2 separate regions of the Homo sapiens genome follow, and region 1 is linked to region 2. The links come from fine-mapping of genetic effects on plasma protein levels. A gene starts in region 2. The other region holds a variant in brackets. All regions are shown on one strand. Distances are between the middles of the regions.

Region 1 (9,585 bases), 150 kb before region 2:
TTCATTGTAGATTCTGGATATTAGCCCTTTGTCAGATGAGTAGGTTGCAAAAATTTTCTCCCATTCTGTAGGTTGCCTGTTCACTCTGATGGTAGTTTCTTTTGCTGTGCAGAAGCTCTTTAGTTTAATTAGATCCCATTTGTCAATTTTGGCTGTTGTTGCCATTGCTTTTGGTGTTTTAGACATGAAGTCCCTGCCCATGCCTATGTCCTGAATGGTATTGCCTAGGTTTTCTTCTAGGGTTTTTATGGTTTTAGGTCTAACATGTAAGTCTTTAATCCATCTGGAATTAATTTTTGTATAAGGTGTAAGGAAGGGATCCAGTTTCAGCTTTCTACGTATGGCTAGCCAGTTTTCCCAGCACCGTTTATTAAATAGGGAATCCTTTCCCCATTTCTTGTTTTTGTCAGGTTTGTCAAAGATCAGATAGTTGTAGATATGTGGCATTATTTCTGAGGGCTCTGTTCTGTTCCATTGGTCGATATTTCTGTTTTGGTACCAGTACCATGCTGTTTTGGTTACTGTAGACTTGTGGTAGTTTGAAGTCAGGTAGCGTGATGCCTCCAGCTTTGTTCTTTGGGCTTAGAATTGACTTGGCGATGCGGGCTCTTTTTTGGTTCCATATGAACTTTAAAGTAGTTTTTTCCAATTCTGTGAAGAAAGTCACTGGTAGCTTGATGGGGATGGCATTGAATCTATAAATTACCTTGGGCAGTATGGCCATTTTCACGATATTGATTCTTCCTACCCATGAGCATGAAATGTTCTTCCATTTGTTTGTATCCTCTTTTATTTCATTGAGCAGTGGTTTGTAGTTCTCCTTGAAGAGGTCCTTCACATCCCTTGTAAGTTGGATTCCTAGGTATTTTATTCTCTTTGAAGCAATTGTGAATGGGAGTTCACTCATGATTTGGCTCTGTTTGTCTGTTATTGGTGTATAAGAATGCTTGTGATTTTTGCACATTGATTTTGTATCCTGAGACTTTGCTGAAGTTGCTTATCAGCTTAAGGAGATTTTGGGCTGAGACGATGGGGTTTTCTAGATATACAATCATGTCATCTGCAAACAGGGACAATTTGACTTCCTCTTTTCCTAATTGAATACTCTTTATTTCCTTCAACTGCCTGATTGCCCTGGCCAGAACTTCCAACACTATGTTGAATAGGAGTGGTGAGAGAGGGCATCCCTGTCCTGTGCCAGTTTTCAAAGGGAATGCTTCCAGTTTTTGCCCATTCAGTATGATATTGGCTGTGGGTTTGTCATAGATAGCTCTTATTATTTTGAGATATGTCCCATCAATACCTAATTTATTGAGAGTTTTTAGCATGAAGGTTGTTGAATTTTGTCAAAGGCCTTTTCCGCATCTATTGAGATAATCATGTGGTTTTTGTCGTTGGTTCTGTTTATATGCTGGATTACATTTATTGATTTGTGTATGTTGAACCAGCCTTGCATCCCAGGGATGAAGTCCACTTGATCATGGTGGATAAGCTTTTTGATGTGCTGCTGGATTCGGTTTGCCAGTATTTTAATGAGGATTTTTGCATCAATGTTCATCAAGGATATTGGTCTAAAATTCTCTTTTTTTGTTTTGGCTCTGCCAGGCTTTGGTATCAGGATGATGCTGGCCTCATAAAATGAGTTAGGGAGGATTCCCTCTTTTTCTATTGATTGGAACAGTTTCAGAAGGAATGGTACCAGCTCCTCCTTGTACCTCTGGTAGAATCCATCTGGTCCTGGACTTTTTTTAGTTGGTAAGCTATTGATTATTGCCTCAATTTCAGAGCCTGTTATTGGTCTATTCAGAGATTCAACTTTTTCCTGGTTTAGTCTTGGGAGGATGTATGTATCGAGGAGTTTATCCATTTCTTCTAGATTTTCTAGTTTATTTGCATAGACATGTTTATAGTATTCTCTGATGGTAGTTTGTATTTCTGTGGGATCGCTGGTGATATCCCCTTTATCACTTTTTATTGCGTCTATTTGATTCTTCTCTTTTATTCTTTATTAGTCTTGCTAGCAGTCTATCAATTTTGTTAATCTTTTCAAAAAACCAGCTGCTGGATTCATTGAGTTTTTGAAGGGTTTTTTGTGTCTCTATTTCCTTCAGTTCTGCTCTGATATTAGTTATATCTTGCCTTCTGCTAGATTTTGAATGTGTTTGCTCTTGCTTTTCTAGTTCTTTTAATTGTGATGTTAGGGTGTCAATTTTAGATCTTTCCTGCTTTCTCTAGTGGGCATTTAGTGCTATAAATTTCCCTCTACACACTGCTTTGAATGTGTCCCAGAGATTCTGGTATGTTGTGTCTTTGTTCTCATTGGTTTCAAAGACCATCTTTATTTCTGCCTTCATTTCATTATGTACCCAGTAGTCATTCAGGAGCAGGTTGTTCAGTTTCCATGTAGTTGAGCGGTTTTGAGTGAGTTTCTTAATCCTGAGTTCTAGTTTGATTCCACTGTGGTCTGAGAGACAGTTTGTTATAATTTCTGTTCTTTTACATTTGCTGAAGAGTGCTTTACTTCCAACTATGTGGTCAATTTTGGAATAGGTGTGGTGTGGTGCTGAAAAGAATGTATATTCTGTTGATTTGGGGTGGAGAGTTCTGTAGATGTCTATTAGGTCCACTTGGTGCAGAGTCGAGTTCAATTCCTGGTTAACTTTCAGTCTCGTTGATCTGTCTAATGTTGACAGTGGGGTGTTAAAGTCTCCCATTATTATTGTGTGGGAGTCTAAGTCTCTTTCTAGGTCACTAAGGACTTGCTTTATGAATCTGGGTGCTCCTATATTGGGTGCATATATATTTAGGATAGTTAGCTCTTCTTGTTGAATTGATCCCTTTACCATTATGTAATGGCCTTCTTTGTCTCTTTTGATCTTTGTTGGTTTAAAGTCTGTTTTATCAGAGACTAGGATTGCAACCCCTGCCTTTTTCTGTTTTCCATTTGCTTGGCAGATCTTCCTCCATCCCTTTATTTTGAGCCTATGTGTGTCTCTGCACCTTAGATGGGTTTCCTGAATACAGCACACTGATGGGTCTTGACTCTTTATCCAATTTGCCAGTCTGTGTCTTTTAATTGGAGCATTTAGCCCATTTACATTCAAAGTTAATATCGTTATGTGTGAATTTGATCTGTCATTATGATGTCAGCTGGCTATTTTGCTTGTTAGTTGATGCAGTTTCTTCCTAGCCTTGACAGTCTTTACAATTTGGCATGTTTTTGTAGTGGCTGGTACCAGTTACCGGTTGTTCCTTTCCAAGTTTAGTGCTTCCTTCAGGAGCTCTTTTAGGGCAGGCCTGGTGGTGACAAAGTCTCTCAGCATTTGCTTGTCTGTAAAGTATTTTATTTCTCCTTCACTTATGAAGCTTAGTTTGGCTGGATATGAAATTCTGGGTTGAAAATTCTTTTCTTTGAGAATGTTGAATATTGGCCCCCACTCTCTTCTGGCTTGTAGAGTTTCTGCTGAGAGATCCGCTGTTAGTCTGATGGGCTTCCCTTTGTGGGTAACCCGATCTTTCTCCCTGGCTGCCCTTAACATTTTTTCTTTCATTTCAACTTTGGTGAATCTGACAATTATGCGTCTTGGAGTTGCTCTTCTCAAGGAGTATCTTTGTGGCATTCTCTGTATTTCCTGAATTTGAATGTTGGCCTGCCTTGCTAGATTGGGGAAGTTCTCCTGGATAATATCCTGCAGAGTGTTTTCCAACTTGGTTCCATTCTCCCTGTCACTTTCAGGTACACCAATCAGACCTACATTTGGTCTTTTCATATAGTCCCATATTTCTTGGAGGCTTTGTTCGTTTCTTTTCATTCTTTTTTCTCTAAACTTCTCTTCTTGCTTTATTTCATTCATTTCGTCTTCCATCACTGATAGCCTTTCTTCCAGTTGCATCGGCTACTGAGGCTTCTGCATTCGTCACATAGTTCTCGTGCCTTGGTTTTCAGGTCCATCAGGTCCTTTAAGGACTTCTCTGCATTGGTTATTCTAGTTAGCCATTCATTTAATTTTTTTTCAGTTTTTAACTTCTTTGCCATTGGTTCGAACTTCCTCCTGCAGCTTGGAGTAGTTTGATCGTGTGAAGCCTTCTTTTCTCAACTCGTCAAAGTCATTCTCCGTTCAGCTTTGTTCTGTTGCTGGTGAGGAGCTGCGTTCCTTTGGAGGAGGAGAGGTGCTGTGATTTTTAGAGTTTCCAGTTTTTCTGCTCTGTTTTTTCCCCATCTTTGTGGTTTCATCTACCTTTGGTCTTTGATGATGGTGACGTACAGATGGGTTTTTGATGTGGATGTCCTTCCTGTTTGTTAGTTTTCCTTCTAACAGACAGTACCCTCAGCTGCAGGTCTGTTGGAGTTTGCTAGAGGTCCACTCCAGACCCTGTTTGCCTGGGTGTCAGCAATGGTGGCTGCAGAACAGCAGGTACTGGTGAACCGCAAATGCTGCTGCCTGATCGTTCCTCTGGAAGTTTTGTCTCAGAGGAGTACCTGGCCGTGTGAGGTGTCAGTCCGCCCCTACTGGGGGGTGCCTCCCAGTTAGGCTATTCGGGGGTCAGGGAACCACTTGAGGAGGCAGTCTGCCCATTCTCAGATCTCAAGCTGCATGCTGGGAGAACCACTACTCTCTTCAAAGCTGTCAGAGAGGGACATTTAAGTCTGCAGAGGTTACTGCTGTCTTTTTGTTTGTCTGTGCCCTGCCCCCAGAGGTGGAGCCTACAGAGGCAGGCAGGCCTCCTTGAGCTGTGGTGGGCTCCACCCAGTTCGAGCTTCCCAGCCGCTTTGTTTACCTAATCAAGTCTCGGCAATGGTGGGCGCCCCTCCCCCAGCCTCGCTGCCGCCTTGCAGTTTGATCTCAGACTGCTGTGCTAGCAATGAGCGAGACTCCGTGGGCATAGGACCCTCCGAGTCATGTGCGGGATATAATCTCCTGGTGTGCCGTTTCTTAAGCCCGTTGGGAAAGTGCAGTATTAGGGTGGGAGTGACCCGATTTTCCAGGTGCCGTCTGTCACCCCTTTCTTTGACTAGGAAAGGGAATTCCCTGACCCCTTGTGCTTCCTGGGTGAGGTGATGCGTCGCCCTGCTTTGGCTCACGCACGGTGCGCTGCACCCACTGTCTGGCACACCCCAGTGAGATGAACCCGGTATCTCAGTTGGAAAGGCAGAAATCACCCGTCTTAGTGCGTCGTTCACGCTGGTAGCTGTAGACCGGAGCTGTTCCTATTTGGCCATCTTGGCTCCTTAACAGCAATTCTATTCTTAGGTACACATTCATGAGAAATGAAAATGTCCACACATCCACACAAAGATTTGCTTATACAGTCTTATTTATAATTACTAAAGACTGAAACACCAAGTGTCTATCAATAGGATAAACTGTGGTATATTCATATAACGAAATACTACTCAGCAATAAAAAGAAATGAACTACATGGATAACTGACATAAAAAGGAATGAAAAGAAATAACTTGGATGAATCTTAGACAATAAGCTCAGCAAAAGCTAGACACAAAAGAGTATATATGGCCTAATTCCATACACAATGCTGTAAAATAGGTAAAACTAATCTATGGTGCAAAAATCACTAAACTATGATGCCTAATTCCATATATAAAGTTCTGTAATTGGCAAAACTAATCTACGGTGCAAAAATCAGAATAGTGGGGAAAAAAATCAGAGAGTAGAGGTAAAGATTGACTAGGAAGGGGCATGAGGGGGAACTCTGTGGGATAAGGAAATATTCTA[T/C]ATCTTGTAAAGTCATACAATTAAGATTTGTACATTTTAGTGTACATAAATTTACTTAAAATAACCAAGTAAGAGTGTTGACAACTTTTGAAGGTAGGCCTTGGATACATGAGCATTTATAACACTATTCTCTGTACTTTGTATATGTTGAAATTTTTCCTAATCAACAATGTTTAAAGAAGAGGCATATGTGGTTCTTATTATTTTGGAACAACAATGTGCTTTTTTTTTTTTTTGAGACAGGGTCTCACTCTGTTGCCCAGGCTGGAGTACAGTGGTGTGATGTCAGCTCACTGCAGCCTCAATCTCCTAGGCTCAGGCAATCCTCCCACCTCACTCAGCCTCCCAAGTAGCAGAACTACAGGCACACGCCACCATGCCCAGCTAATTAAAACAACGACAACAACAACAACAACAACAACAAAACCTTTGGTAGAAACAGGGTCTCACTATGTTGCCTAGGCTGGTCTCCAACTCTTGGCCTCAAATGATCTTCCTGCCTGGGCCTCCCAAAGTGGCAGTATAACAGGTGTGACCTACTATGCCTGGCCAAGAATGAACTTAAAAAAAAAAAGACTTTCAGCTTAACAGAAGAAAAGGCTGGGATCTTTGATTCTTTAACTTGGAATTCCTGTCCAATTACCTGCTTGGGGAATTCCTTTTTCATGCTTCAAAACCTAGATCAGGTATCACTTCCTCTCCGAAGGCTTTCCTAACCCCACTCCTCTTTCTCTGCAGTTTTAATTCTTTATGCATTCAGGATTGCATATTTTAATTCTTGTTCATATCACATTATGTTTTAATGATCTATTTACATGTATGTTTTTCCTACTAGACTTGGTTGGTGGGAATTCCGTCATCTTTTTCTTTGACTCCCAGTGATTAGTACAGTGTTTGGAATTGAATGAAACTCTGTCCCCATGATAAGATTTGGACTTCAAATCTAAATCTTTCCCATTAAAAGGCCATTAAAGTTTAAGATAAATTAAAACCCTGAAAACACTTGCTGCAGTGACCTAGTAGTAAGTAGTAACTAAGTAACTGAAGAAAGCAGGTCAGTTGGCAGGAACCATGAGTAGATAGGCAGTTCAGTTTTCCCCCAACTAAGCTGTCTTCAATAAATGTTGGCCTTCTAGTTTCCTTGTGAAAAAGGCTAAAATTTTTCACTTGTTTGAGGGAGAAATAGAGGAACACAGGTGAGCAGGGTATCCCTTGTGATGCAAAGGCCAAGATAACATGCCTAGTGCCTCCTATCCCCCGCTACAGCTAGTACTTTCTTCTCTATATACTAGAGCCCAAGACAATGATGGTGTAAAACATACATGACCAACACAGAAAGAAGGCTTCAGGGAACAGAAGAAATGTGAGAGAGACTACAAAGCGAGGCATAAAAAACGGAGTCTCACTCTGTCACCCAGGCTGGAGTGCAGTGGCGCGATCTTGGCTCACTGCAACCTCCGCCTCCTGGGTTCAAGCGATTCTCCTGATTCAGCCTCCCGAGTAGCTGGGATTACAGGCACCCACCACCACGCCCGGCTAATTTTTGTATTTCTAGTAGAGGCGGGGTTTCACCATGTTGGCCAGGCTGGGTCTTGAACTCCTGACCTCAAATGATCCACCCACCTCGGCCTCTGGATTACAGGCATAAGCCACCATGCCTGGCCAAAAAAACAAAACCCCACAGGTTTTAAGCAATCCATTAAAGTGCCACATCTTCCAAAGTTCTATTATATAAAATAAAGTGTGATATGGTTTGGATCTGTGTCCCTACCAAACCTCACGTCAAATTGTAGTGCCCATTGTTGGAGGTGGGGCCTGGTGGGTGGTGGCTGGATCATGGGGATGGATTTCTCATGTCTGATTTAGCACCATCACCTTGGTGCTGTCCTCCTGATAGTGAGTTTTCCCAATCTGGTTGTTTAAAAGTGTGTGGCACCCCCTCCTCCCTCACGCTCTCTTGCTCTCACTCCCACTATATGAGACACCTTGCCCCCTCCTTTGCCTTCTGCCATGATTGGAAGCTTCTTGAGGCCTCCCCAGAAGCAGGTTTTGGTTCCTGTACAGGCTGCAAAACCATGAGCCAATTAAACCTCTTTTCTTTATAAATTACCCAGTCTCAGGTATTTCTTTTTTTGAGGAAAGGTCTTACTCTGTCACACAGGCTGGGGTGGCACAATCATGGGTCACTGCAGCCTTGACCTCTCAGGCTCAAGTGATCCTCCTGCCTCAGCCTCCCAAGCAGCTGAGACCACTGGTGCCTGCCACCACGCCTGGCTAATTTATTTTTATTGTTTGTAGAGATGGGGTCTTATCATGTGGTCCAGGCTGATTCGGTGTTTCTTTATAGCAATGTGAGAACAGACTAATATAAAGTGTACTTACTACATCTTCATTTTGAATAGCATAGAATATTCATGTTTTCGTAACTGTTAATATATGTTCTACATACCAACTATTTTGGGTTATTTGCATCTCTATATCCTTTTATTAGTTTCAATAGCTAATATGTGCCTTAATCCTGCACACAGAGTACGAGCACTGTCAAAGTTATACTTCCCTTTCGAGGAAAAGGAACATTTGTCTTTCTTATGTTAACTTCCTTCCATCTTTTCCTGCCATCTTCTCACTAATCTGATCTAATTTAGTTAGCTGACATTTTCTGTCAGAACCTATTTAACAGAAATAAATGAATGATTTTCCAACCTACTGTTTGGGCTCTGCTCAAACAGCTTTACAATGCTAGGGTTATTTGACCCCAATGATGATGTTTGAAATAAACTGCATACCGGATTTCACTGAAGCCACTGAGGAACCATTAAGGTAAACTTGTAGGGCACTACACAGCATTAAAGAATAGGGTATCTCCCAAAATGGAACCAAATATTCCTGTTTGCAGGGTAGATTCTACATTTTCTGCCTCCTTGATATTTCTTAATGTTTTCTCTTCATGTTCTTGGAACCCTTGGACAATGTAACTTTAGTGTACAACAAAGATTCATGCCTACCAAATATTTCATTTTTGATAAAGGCCAAAAATAGAATCTCCTAAATCCAAACCACCCTTCCTGGTGCTGCCTGCCCTGTAACTGCAGTCAACTATTAATTAACTGTAGAAAAAGAGGAAGACGGTGATGAGAATAATCCTTACTGATTTGTGCTTTGGAATTATATATATATACTGACCTATTTCGATCTTCCTAAATATCTAGTGTAGTCTACAAAAATATCAATACTGATTTGATTTCAGAATACACACTAACAGATATAAGTGGGAAATGCTTTCTCTACAAGCATCCTGGGTGAAGAGAAAAAAGCAGCCCAGAGTTTACATATGTCATACATAACCCACAGAATAGACAATGTACACGTGGATAGGTAAGAACTGTCTGTTGTGATTCTATAGTGGGGAATTCCCACCTCCCAGGATGGCTATGAGGGATGTTAACTTTGATTTATACTTAGGAAAGCACTTGCAAATATGGGACTAAAATCCTAAGTATGGCTGCTGGGGCTCCCTCCATGTGGGAAGGGAAGTGCAATTATTTTTACTATGGGGTGTGTGTGTGTGTGTGTGTGTGTGTGTGTGTGTGTGTATTTCTCAGTCTTCATCTTTGAGTCTTGCCCTAAAATTCCCAGGGTCCAACCAGGAGTGCCTGAGCAGGTCAATGAAGGCTCTGCAGCAGTAAAAGGGACTGATCCTGGGTTTTCCTTGCTGTCCAAAGCAGCACTGGGAATTCAGGAAAAGAAATAGAAACCACATACAACTGGATGCCTAAAGCAACTGAAGTAGGGAATAAAAAAAGATATTAAAGAGAAATGCATGCACACATACACACACACACACACACAC
Region 2 (9,585 bases):
GGTCATCATTCTTGTCGAGACTTCACTGCTTTGTGTATAGCATCAAACTGTGCCCCACAGAAAGGGATACAAGTAAATAATTGTTTAGCACCCTGTAGTTTACAAAATATTTTCATGGGCATTATCAACTGATACCACCTGAGGATATGGATGTGTTAGCCAAAATTTAAAGGAGGGTGTAGCGTTAGCTCATATCATACAGTCAATTTAATGAAGTGGCATCAAAATGTAAAACCATTTCATGTTCACAATATGAACAGTAGGCCTTCCTTATCCCGTCCCCCATGCCATCTCTGGGTCTTACCCATCCCTCAAGTTCACATTAGAAGGGCAGGGATGCTACTGAGCACTTATCTTAGGACTGCAAAAACAAGTAGAAATGTGTTTATGCATTCATTTATTGATTGCGACAGAGCAAGACCATCCCTACTATCACCATTGTCATCATCACCATCACCATTTCTATCATAATCACCACCATCATCCTCCTCCTCCTCATCATGTCCAGTGTAAGCTGGAGTGTAGTGGCGTGATCTCGGCTTACTGCAACCTCCGCCTCCTGGATTCAAGCGATTCTCCTGCTTCTGCCTCCCGAGTAGCTGGAATTACAGGTGTGTGCCACCACACCCAGCTAATGTTTTGTATTTTTAGTAGAGGCGGGGTTTCTCCATGTTGGCCAGGCTGATCTCGAACTCCTGACCTCAGGTGATCCACCTCTCTCAGCGTCCCGAAGTGCTGGAATTACAGGTGTGAGCCACTGTGCTTGGTCTATTTTTAAAGTAGTATCAAAATGTGCCCACATGAAAATGTCACATACTCATTCCTCAACCAAGAGGTGCCCCAGCTGGGCCCTTCCTCTTCTGCATGGACTTACAATATCTGGAGGTAGGCAGCTCCTGAGGATGTGCACCCCTGAGGCTGGGAAAGGTGGTCCTAGCTCTCCAGAGTCAAACTATAAAGAATGGCCCCCATCCCTAACACGTACTCAATTTGCAGGGCATCCAGGCTCATGCCTTGGCCACTGGGGGCCTTGCCAACCTGGAACAGACAAGAGGCAATCAACATTAACAGAGGCTTTCTATTTAGGCATTCTAACCAACATGCAAAAAGCCAAGAGGGCTGCAGGCTTACAAAGCTTGACCTTATAATTTATGGTGCATGTGGTATGAGGGAGTTCTGAGGCATTTTTACACAAGCTGGATGAAAGGATGAGATGTCTCCAGCTCCCCCTCTTCTCCGCCCACATTCCTGACCATCCAACACACTTTAGCAAGGAAAAGGGATAGAGGAAACAAAACTAGGAGGAAAAGCAGAAGAGAAACTCCTCTAGATTCATGCTGTGCTCAGAAACTGGGGTAGGAGAATGGAAGTCTCCAGGAAGAGCTGTTGATCCCTTCCTGCTCTGGAAGATGCACTTCTATGACTGCCCACCAGCCTCCTCCTCTGGGTGTAACCGAACACCATGGTGGAGCCACACTTCAGAGAAACACACTGCTTGCTTTTAACGTTAAACACATCCTAGCCTGTGGTTTGTGAGCCACATATGGTCCTGGGAGCCCCACGAAATAATGATGAAAGAAAATCGTTGAAATCTGGACACAGAAGCTCTCTGAAGCTATACTTTTCCTCAGTGACTCTGCAAATTGTATTAGCTGTCCAATATTCACTGAGCATTGCCATATGCCCAGTATCATATGGTGTCTCTTGTCTAATCCGCATAACAGCAAGGTTGTTCTTTTTTTTTGGGTGGAGTGCAATGGTGAACAGGGCTCACTGCAGCCTTGACTTTCCAGGCCCAAGTGATCCTCTCACCTCAGCTCCCCAAGTAGCTGGGACTACAGTCACACTCCACCATGCCTGGATAATTTTTTTTTGTATTTTTTGTAGGGACAGGGTTTTGCCTTGTTGCCCAGGCTTGTTTTGAACTCTTGGGCTCAAGCAGTCCATCTGCCTCGGCCTCCCCAAGTACTGGGATTATAGGTGTGAGCCACCACACCTGGCCTAGTGAGGTAGCAATTACTCCTGTCTTATAGCTGAAGATACTGAGGTTCAGAGAGGTCACACTCCAAAGTCAGTCATGGAGCTGAATTTGAACCCAAGTCAGTCTATTCTATAGCCTGTGTCTTAACCATTGTATGTACTATCTCCCAGAGGAAAAGAATGAGAGGGAAATGCTGAAAATATTAACAGTCCCATCGTCCTACTCTCTATTCATTCATTCAGTGCTCAGTAGAGGTAAAAATTGAGAAACCGTCCATTCTCATATCTGGCCTACAGTCTGCTTTTTTTTTTTTCCTGAGACAGGGTCTTGCTCTGTTGCCCAGGCTGGAGTACAGTGGTGCCATCATAGCTCACTATAACCTTGAACTCCCAGGCTCAAGCGATCCTCCTGTCTCAGCCTCCTGAGTGCCACCACATCCAGCTAAATTTTTTTTGGTGGAGTCAGGGTCTTGCTGTTATCTAGGCTGGTCTTGAACTCCTGGCCTCAAGTGATCTTCCTGCCTTGGCCTCCCATAGCGTTGGGATTACAGGTGTGAGGCACTGTACTTGGCCTGGATCAATTTTTAAAAATTTAAATATCATTTAATTATTTTTGATAAGGATCAGATGACTATTTCTCTAAGAAACGGATTAATAATAAGACAGGTCCTTAAAGATGCACCTTACAGAAAGGGTGACCCTGAAATCTAGAGGAGTTTAGGGATACTTCTCAAGGTCACACACTTTGGTAGCACTAAAGGAGTAGGGCTCTTGCTTTCAAGGCCAGATCTTGGCAGCAAGCTGCTTTACCAGTTATCACTGCCTCTGCCCCTAACATGGAGAACTGCTTGAAGGGGGATAACCTCTTTTTGCGCGCTAGAGATTTTAACAACACAACCCGAACTCAGCTGAATAGTTTTTAAACAAGGTTCCTGTGATGAGTGTCTTCTGATTTCTTCTGCTGTCTCCCCGCGCCACAGGTCAGAGACCTGTGCCCTGTTGAACCTAGAGGCTCCTACAATAGCTCCTGGTATTTAGCTGAAGTAGGGTGTTCCTCTCTGTCTGGGGCAGATGGTTGTATTTCTAGTCCAGAACCTGCTATAATTTACTCTGTCCTCCCACACTAATAGCGATTCTTCTATCTGCCAGCTTGGCTTCTATAGCCTTCTGCAATCTGGACCCGCTCCACCCAGTTCATCTCTTTCTTCTCTACATGTAGAACACACCCTCATGGCCAACAGGTGTCCTGGGCTCACCCCATTTCCGCCACAGAAATATCCTCCCTGCTCTCCTCATATGCAAATCATTCTTCAAGGCACTGCTCAAGGTCTTTCTGCCCCCAAAGCCTGCCCATGTACAGGCCAATGGTTTGCTTTCCAAATCTCTTTACATTTATGTTCCCAATTTACCTAAGTTAGCCCTCAACAGGTTTCTGTATATATCTCCAAGTGTAGTGCAGGCTCCTTGAGGGCAGGCACACAAGTGTTCATTCATTCACTGGAGGCTTTTAGCAACACCTTATAAAGCGAGAAAGAAGGAGAAATATAAACTATGGTTGCTTCCAGTCCTCAGGGAGGGGAGACATACCTGGCACACAGTGGGCCCTCAACAAAGGTTTGCTATATTGAACTAACATATATGCCTCTCGTTGCAATTACTTGCTAAGTCCCATGAGAGGTATCAAATGGTGTTATAGGGAAAGCATCATCAAAGAGGTGGCATTTGAACCCTATAGGCTTTAAGGGCAGGGCATGGTTTTGTCTTTGTTTACAGAACTGGGAGGAGGTTACAGACAGAAGAAACAGCATTCCTACTACACACAGTGCCAGGTGCACACAGTGCCAGGCACACATCACTCACCAGAAACTGGGGAAAGCAGTGGAATTGAGTGAGTTCTGTCCCTGCCCCGGCACCAATTAGACTGAGTGAGTGGGCAAGTTGCTTAACTTCCCTGGGCCCCCGTTTCCTTCCCATTCTGAAGTGATTAAGCTGCACAGACTTCAGAAAGAAGCAGACTGAGTGAGGTTCGAATGATGACTATATGTGACCTTGAGCCAATCCGAAGCCGGCTCGCTCAGTCTCAATTTCCTTCCTATAAAATGGGTAAAATAATTTCTACCTCACAGGGCTTTTGTGAGATTTCGAGAACATATGTGAGTCGCTAACCACACAGCCTGGCAATACCAGATTTCCTTTTACAAAAGTAGGGGTGACAACGCTGATCTGCCTCTTTCTGTGTGGCTGCTGCTGCCTCCGCAGCACCCATCCCAGAGGCTGTCAGGAGTAGGGGCCGTGGACAAACTTCATGACCCCGAAAGAGAAAACAGAGCTGAAGGGGCTTCGGGGGGAAAAAGTAAAGAGCTGGCCACAGCAGGCTAACTTGGCTAACGGGGACACTTGGTGAATGCGTCCCCTTGAACAGACTTACCACAGTCGAGAATCTTTGCTAACTCGCATCAACCATGCCTCCCAAGCTGGCTGGATTTTGGACAGCCTTTTTTGTCTCCGCCTTCAAACCCAAGGCAAAGGACAAGGCCCAACCCCATGGCGGGCTGGGAGAGTGAAAGCAGGGGGAGTCCCCCAATTCCCAGCGGAAAGGAAGGGCGATCTGTTCCCACCCGCTGACTCCCACTCCCGGGGCCAGGGCTCCTTGGGCGCCCCCCTTCATTTCTCTCCTCTCCGCACAGGTCGGGAAGGGAGGGGGTCGCGCTTGGCCCGCGGCGCAGGTTCACCCCGGCTTTCGTCCCTCCGACCCCGCCTGGCCGCCCATCCCCGACCCCCGTGGACCCTGCTCGGCCGCCCCGGCTGGGGTCGATCTGGCCCTCCGCCCCCAGCCTGCGTGGAACCCGCCGGGCCGCCAGCCCCACCTCGGCCGCGTCCCCTCCCCTCCGCTCCGCTCTTCTCCCCTCCCCTCGCGGCCACCTCGGTGCCCACCCCGGCCTCCGCAGACCCCGCCGGGACCCCGCCCCGCGCCCAGCCACCCCCGCGCCGGCTTCCCGGCCCCCGTAGACCCCGCCCGGCCCTCCCTCTCCGGGGTCGTGGCGGCGGGGAGGAGGGGCCGCCGGGCCGGCGTGCGTGGCAAGCTCTCCCGGCTCGGCTCGCTCGGCCTCCCTTACCGGGAGGCGGGGTCGGCGCCGCGGCGGCGGAGGCAGGCCCCCTCCTCCCGCCTCCTCGGCCCGGCCTCCTTCCCCGGCCGCGCGTCCTCTCGCCGCTCCGACGCCAGCAGCGCCCGCGTGCCGCTCGCCCAGTCCCGGGGGAGCCCCTGCAAGTTTCCCGGGCCGCGCGCCGCGCTCGCTCGCCTCCCAGCCCGCGGCCCGAGCCGCCGCCGCGCCCGCCATGCCCTCGGCCAAACAAAGGGGCTCCAAGGGCGGCCACGGCGCCGCGAGCCCCTCGGAGAAGGGTGCCCACCCGTCGGGCGGCGCGGATGACGTGGCGAAGAAGCCGCCGCCGGCGCCGCAGCAGCCGCCGCCGCCGCCCGCGCCGCACCCGCAGCAGCACCCGCAGCAGCACCCGCAGAACCAGGCGCACGGCAAGGGCGGCCACCGCGGCGGCGGCGGCGGCGGCGGCAAGTCCTCCTCCTCCTCCTCCGCCTCCGCCGCCGCTGCCGCCGCCGCCGCCTCGTCCTCGGCGTCCTGCTCGCGCAGGCTCGGCAGGGCGCTCAACTTTCTCTTCTACCTCGCCCTGGTGGCGGCGGCCGCTTTCTCGGGCTGGTGCGTCCACCACGTCCTGGAGGAGGTCCAGCAGGTCCGGCGCAGCCACCAGGACTTCTCCCGGCAGAGGGAGGAGCTGGGCCAGGGCTTGCAGGGCGTCGAGCAGAAGGTGGGTACCCCCGGCCCCGCAACTGTCCCCATCGACTGCGGCCTCCGGACCCACGGCCGGGCTCCTTCGTGCTTCCCGACCGGCCCCTAGCGCTGCCTGCCCAGGCCCGGAGGCGGGAGCCGGCCGCTCCTCCTTGGCGGGCCCTGGCCTAGACATCCCACTCCACGCGGCCCCCTAGTTCCGAGGCAGTCCCCAGACCCCCTTTGTTAATGGCTGCGGAGGAATCGGCCCCGAGGGATGGGCCGCCGCGAGGATGCCCAGGCCCGCCTGGCAGGGTGGGCCAAGGGCCTGTCACAGGGCATTAGCGGTGACCTGTAAGGAAGCCGGCAGGCTCCGGGGAGCCCATTCTTTCTGCATTAGGAACCGCTGAATGGGCAGAGCTGTCTGAAAAGGAGGTTGGAAGGGAAGCCAGCGCATCCCTGGAAGCCTCAGGCAAGGCCCCACCTCAGCTCTGCCTGTGGGAGACATCCGAGCGGGGTTTTTAATAGACCCGGAGCTGGCATTCTTACTCATTTGCAGGTCCAAATGAAATACCATCTATCTTTAGGTCCCTTGTCCTGTATTGGACCAGCCTGCCCAGGTGGGCCTTTGACGTAGTCCTACTTCAGCTTTTTTGGGTTTTCTTTTGAGAGGGAGTCTGGCTCTGTCGCCCAGGCTGGAGTGCAGTGGTACGATCTCAGCTCACTGCAACCTCTGCCTCCCAGGTTCCAGCGATTCTCCTGCCTCAGCCTCCTGAGTAGCTGGGATTACAGACATGTGCCACCATACCCAGCTAATTTTTTATTAGTAGTAGAGACAAAGTTTCACCGTATTGGCCAGGCTGGTCTCGAACTTCTGACCTCAAGTGATCCGCCTGCCTCGGCCTCCCAAAGTGCTGGGATTACAGGCGTGAGCCACTGCGCCCGGCCCTACTTCCGCTTTAGGGGAAGAGGAGGGCCAAAAATACTAGATCATACTGGTGAATAATACTTCTAGCCACATTTATATGGTGTTTAGAATGCTTACTCACTCACATATTATCTAATTCTTATAACTACCCTGGGAGGGAGGACTAACAGTTTTGATTTCATTTCCCAGAGCAGAACATTGAGGTTTAGACAGAGGAATGAGTTGACAAAGTCCCCAGCTGGTGAGTGACAGACACACGAGAATGTCTAGGCCACTGCCCTGTTCGTCAAGGGTCCACAGGGGTCCATTTCAGGTATGGATGGACCCAACTCTCAAGGCGAAGGTGCTTAGCTTCCACCCTTCTGTGGTTTTTCCATACCAAGTACAGCCCCTTTGATCTTATTCGCCCTCCACTATGTCATTGCTCAATGAAAGTTGGTTGCAAGACTGAAACAAAAAATCCCGCCACTTCTGATCCCGGAGCCACTGCCTCCTTTTCCCAGCATGCTGTCTGTCCTGCCAAGTTGCTCTCTGCTTTTGTTGAGTGTGCAGGACCAGGAATTTCCTCTTAAGACTGGCAGAGCACGGCCGGGCGTGGTGGCTCACGCCTGTAATCCCGGCACTGTAGGAGGCCGAGGCGGGCGGATCACCTGAGGTCAGAAGTTTGAGAGCAGCCTGGCCAACATGGTGAAACCCTGTGTCTACTAAAAATACAAAAATTAGCGGGGTGTGGTGGCACATGCCTGTAGTCCCAGCTACTCAGGAGGTTGAGGCAGGAGAATTGCTTGAACCCGGGAGGTGGAGGTTGCAGTGAGCGGAAATCCTGCCAGTGCACCCCAGCCGGGGCAACAGAGTGAGACTCCGTCTCAAAAAAAAAAAAAAAAAAAAAAAAGACTGGCAGAGCAACTGGAATGAGTCAGCCTGCTAAACGCTGCAGGCCAAGGGAGGTGACTTTTCTAAGGGAATTAAGTAGGCAGTGCTGCTTTGCCTATCCTGAATGTCAAACCATTCTTAAAAAATAGACATACTGCTGGAGTATAATGACTAGCCTCTGTTTCTTCTCTTTCATCCTCCTACTTACTAGTCAATCATAATATTTATTAAAGTCTGACAGTTGCATGGCTCTGTGTAGGCTTTGTGGGAGGGTATGAAGGAGCAAAAGACACGAATCACTTGTGCAGCGCATAAGGAGGTGTCAGTTGAGGGTAACTCCTGTGAAAGTTCAGAAGAGGGAGGGTGTGGAATTTCGCCTGTATCCCGGTGGCCAGGGTAGTGCCAGCCATCTAGCTGGTGATCGATAAATGTTGAGAGAAGGACTGTGATGAACACCGTGGCAGGGGCACTATTTTGAGCATGTTTGAGAGAGAGGAGGTGGCTACCCTGCCAATGGCAGAGTCACATGTAGGAAATTGTGAGAGAGGGTGGGTTGGAAGTTGAGGCCAAAATAGGGAAGGTCTTGAATCCAGGTTAATTCTCTGTGCTTCTCCCTGCCCCTCACTTAGTCCCTTCTTTTTGCTTCTCACCCCTTCTCCATCACAGCTATGTATATAGATCACTTTCTTCTTTGGGGCTCAGTTTTCCCACCCACACAATGAGAAGAGGGCTCCATCCAGACTTTTAAGAATCCTCATGGCTCTAAAATAATTGAAATAGTGACTTCTCTGTTTTTTATTTCATATTTTATATTTCGTAGAGACAGGGTCTCACTCTGTCACCAGGCTGGAGCGTAGTGGTGTGATCATAGCTCACTGCAGCCTTGAACTCCTGGCCTCAAGTGTTCCTCTTGCCTCAGCCTCACAAGTAGCTGGGACCACAGGCATGCACAAGCACGTCCAGCTATTTATTTATTTTTAAAATTTTTGGTAGAGACAGGGTCTTGCTGTGTTGCTCAGGCTGGTCTCAAACTCCTGGGCTCAAGCAGTCCTCCTGCCTTGGCCTCTCAAAGTGCTGGGATTACAGATGTGAGCCACTGCGCCTGGCTGACCACTTTTCTTTTAATTTAGTAGTGTAATCAAACTATAATTTAATGTGTCATATTTATGGTGCACTTATTACGTGCCAGGCACTATGCAAAGCATTTGAAAATGCATCATCTGCTGACTCTCACAACAACCCCAAGAGGTAAGTACTATTATCAGCCCTCTTTGACAGATGAGAAAAGTGAGAGGCTAAGTAACTGAGCGGTGATATAGCTAGTTAGTGGCTGGGCTAGGATCCAAACTGTTGTCTAACTCCTGGAACACTATTAACCACTCCACTATTTAGCCTAGTACATAGTAGGTGCCCAATAAATGTTCCATTGACTTGAGACTCAGAACATGGCCAGAACAGTGTTAGATTTGCCATAGAATGTGGCCACTCTGTCTGTATCTTTGGGGTGGCCAGTAAATAAATTATTTTGCATTGAGGAACCAGTTGTGTTTGGTTCTCTGACAGCCTAAGTTTGAACCCTTTTATAACTCTTGGTTACTTGTTGGGGGGTGGAGTTTGGTTCATAGCAGGGAAGTATACTTACAGTATTCATAATTACTGTTCACTATGGGTCAGCCATGCTATTAAATGCTTTATAGCCATGATTTCTGTTCTCCCAGCCACCCTCTGAGGCAGGTATCATTTAGTAGTACCATTTTGCAGATGGGGCAGCTGAGGACTGGCTGTGTAACTCATTCAAGGTCACACACAGACCATAAGTTGTGTAGCTGGAGTTGGGTGCCCACCTGTCTCTTGTTCTCCAGATGTTCTTGTTATTGGAGAATGGCTCAAATCTTCTGAATGACTGTAGCACAGGCAGAGAGGCAGGCCTGTCCTTACCCAGAGGATTCAGCAGGCACAAGTGGGTCCTGGGCTTCAGAAAGTGTTGGCAGTTCATCTCTAGGCCCTCTGAAGAGCCTGTGTTGC

Direction of the effects. Positions count from the first base shown, and alleles are read on the strand shown. Strength reflects both the effect of a copy and how common the allele is.
For the plasma level of the protein whose gene starts at base 5,148 in region 2, T is the low allele of the variant in region 1 and C is the other (weak association).

What was found. A credible set is the group of variants that fine-mapping cannot tell apart. PIP is the posterior inclusion probability: the model's chance that the variant is causal. Protein levels are from antibody-based Olink assays in UK Biobank. Linkage for the fine-mapping came from a reference panel and not from the study's own genotypes, which makes the PIPs less certain.
Region 1: its variant is the best candidate, but not a certain one, in a credible set for the plasma level of the CKAP4 protein (UK Biobank, PIP 0.68).

What each region holds. Positions count from the first base shown.
Region 1 is chr12:106,393,511-106,403,095 of GRCh38, reverse strand. The region is part of intron 10 of POLR3B (RNA polymerase III subunit B); the gene reads right to left. Among named protein-coding and RNA genes, the nearest start is that of POLR3B, 41 kb to the right of the region's middle. RefSeq lists enhancers at 4,442-4,941, 4,942-5,443. The variant T/C (reference allele first, on the strand shown) is at 5,736.
Region 2 is chr12:106,243,583-106,253,167 of GRCh38, reverse strand. It overlaps CKAP4 (cytoskeleton associated protein 4), which reads left to right and starts at 5,148. Exons shown (of 2, transcript NM_006825.4): 1 at 5,148-5,799. The coding sequence starts at 5,317. LOC124903008 (a long non-coding RNA gene) reads right to left here and starts at 4,896. Exons shown (of 2, transcript XR_007063443.1): 1 at 4,409-4,896; 2 at 381-3,497. RefSeq lists silencers at 4,573-4,912, 4,943-5,252, 5,913-6,002.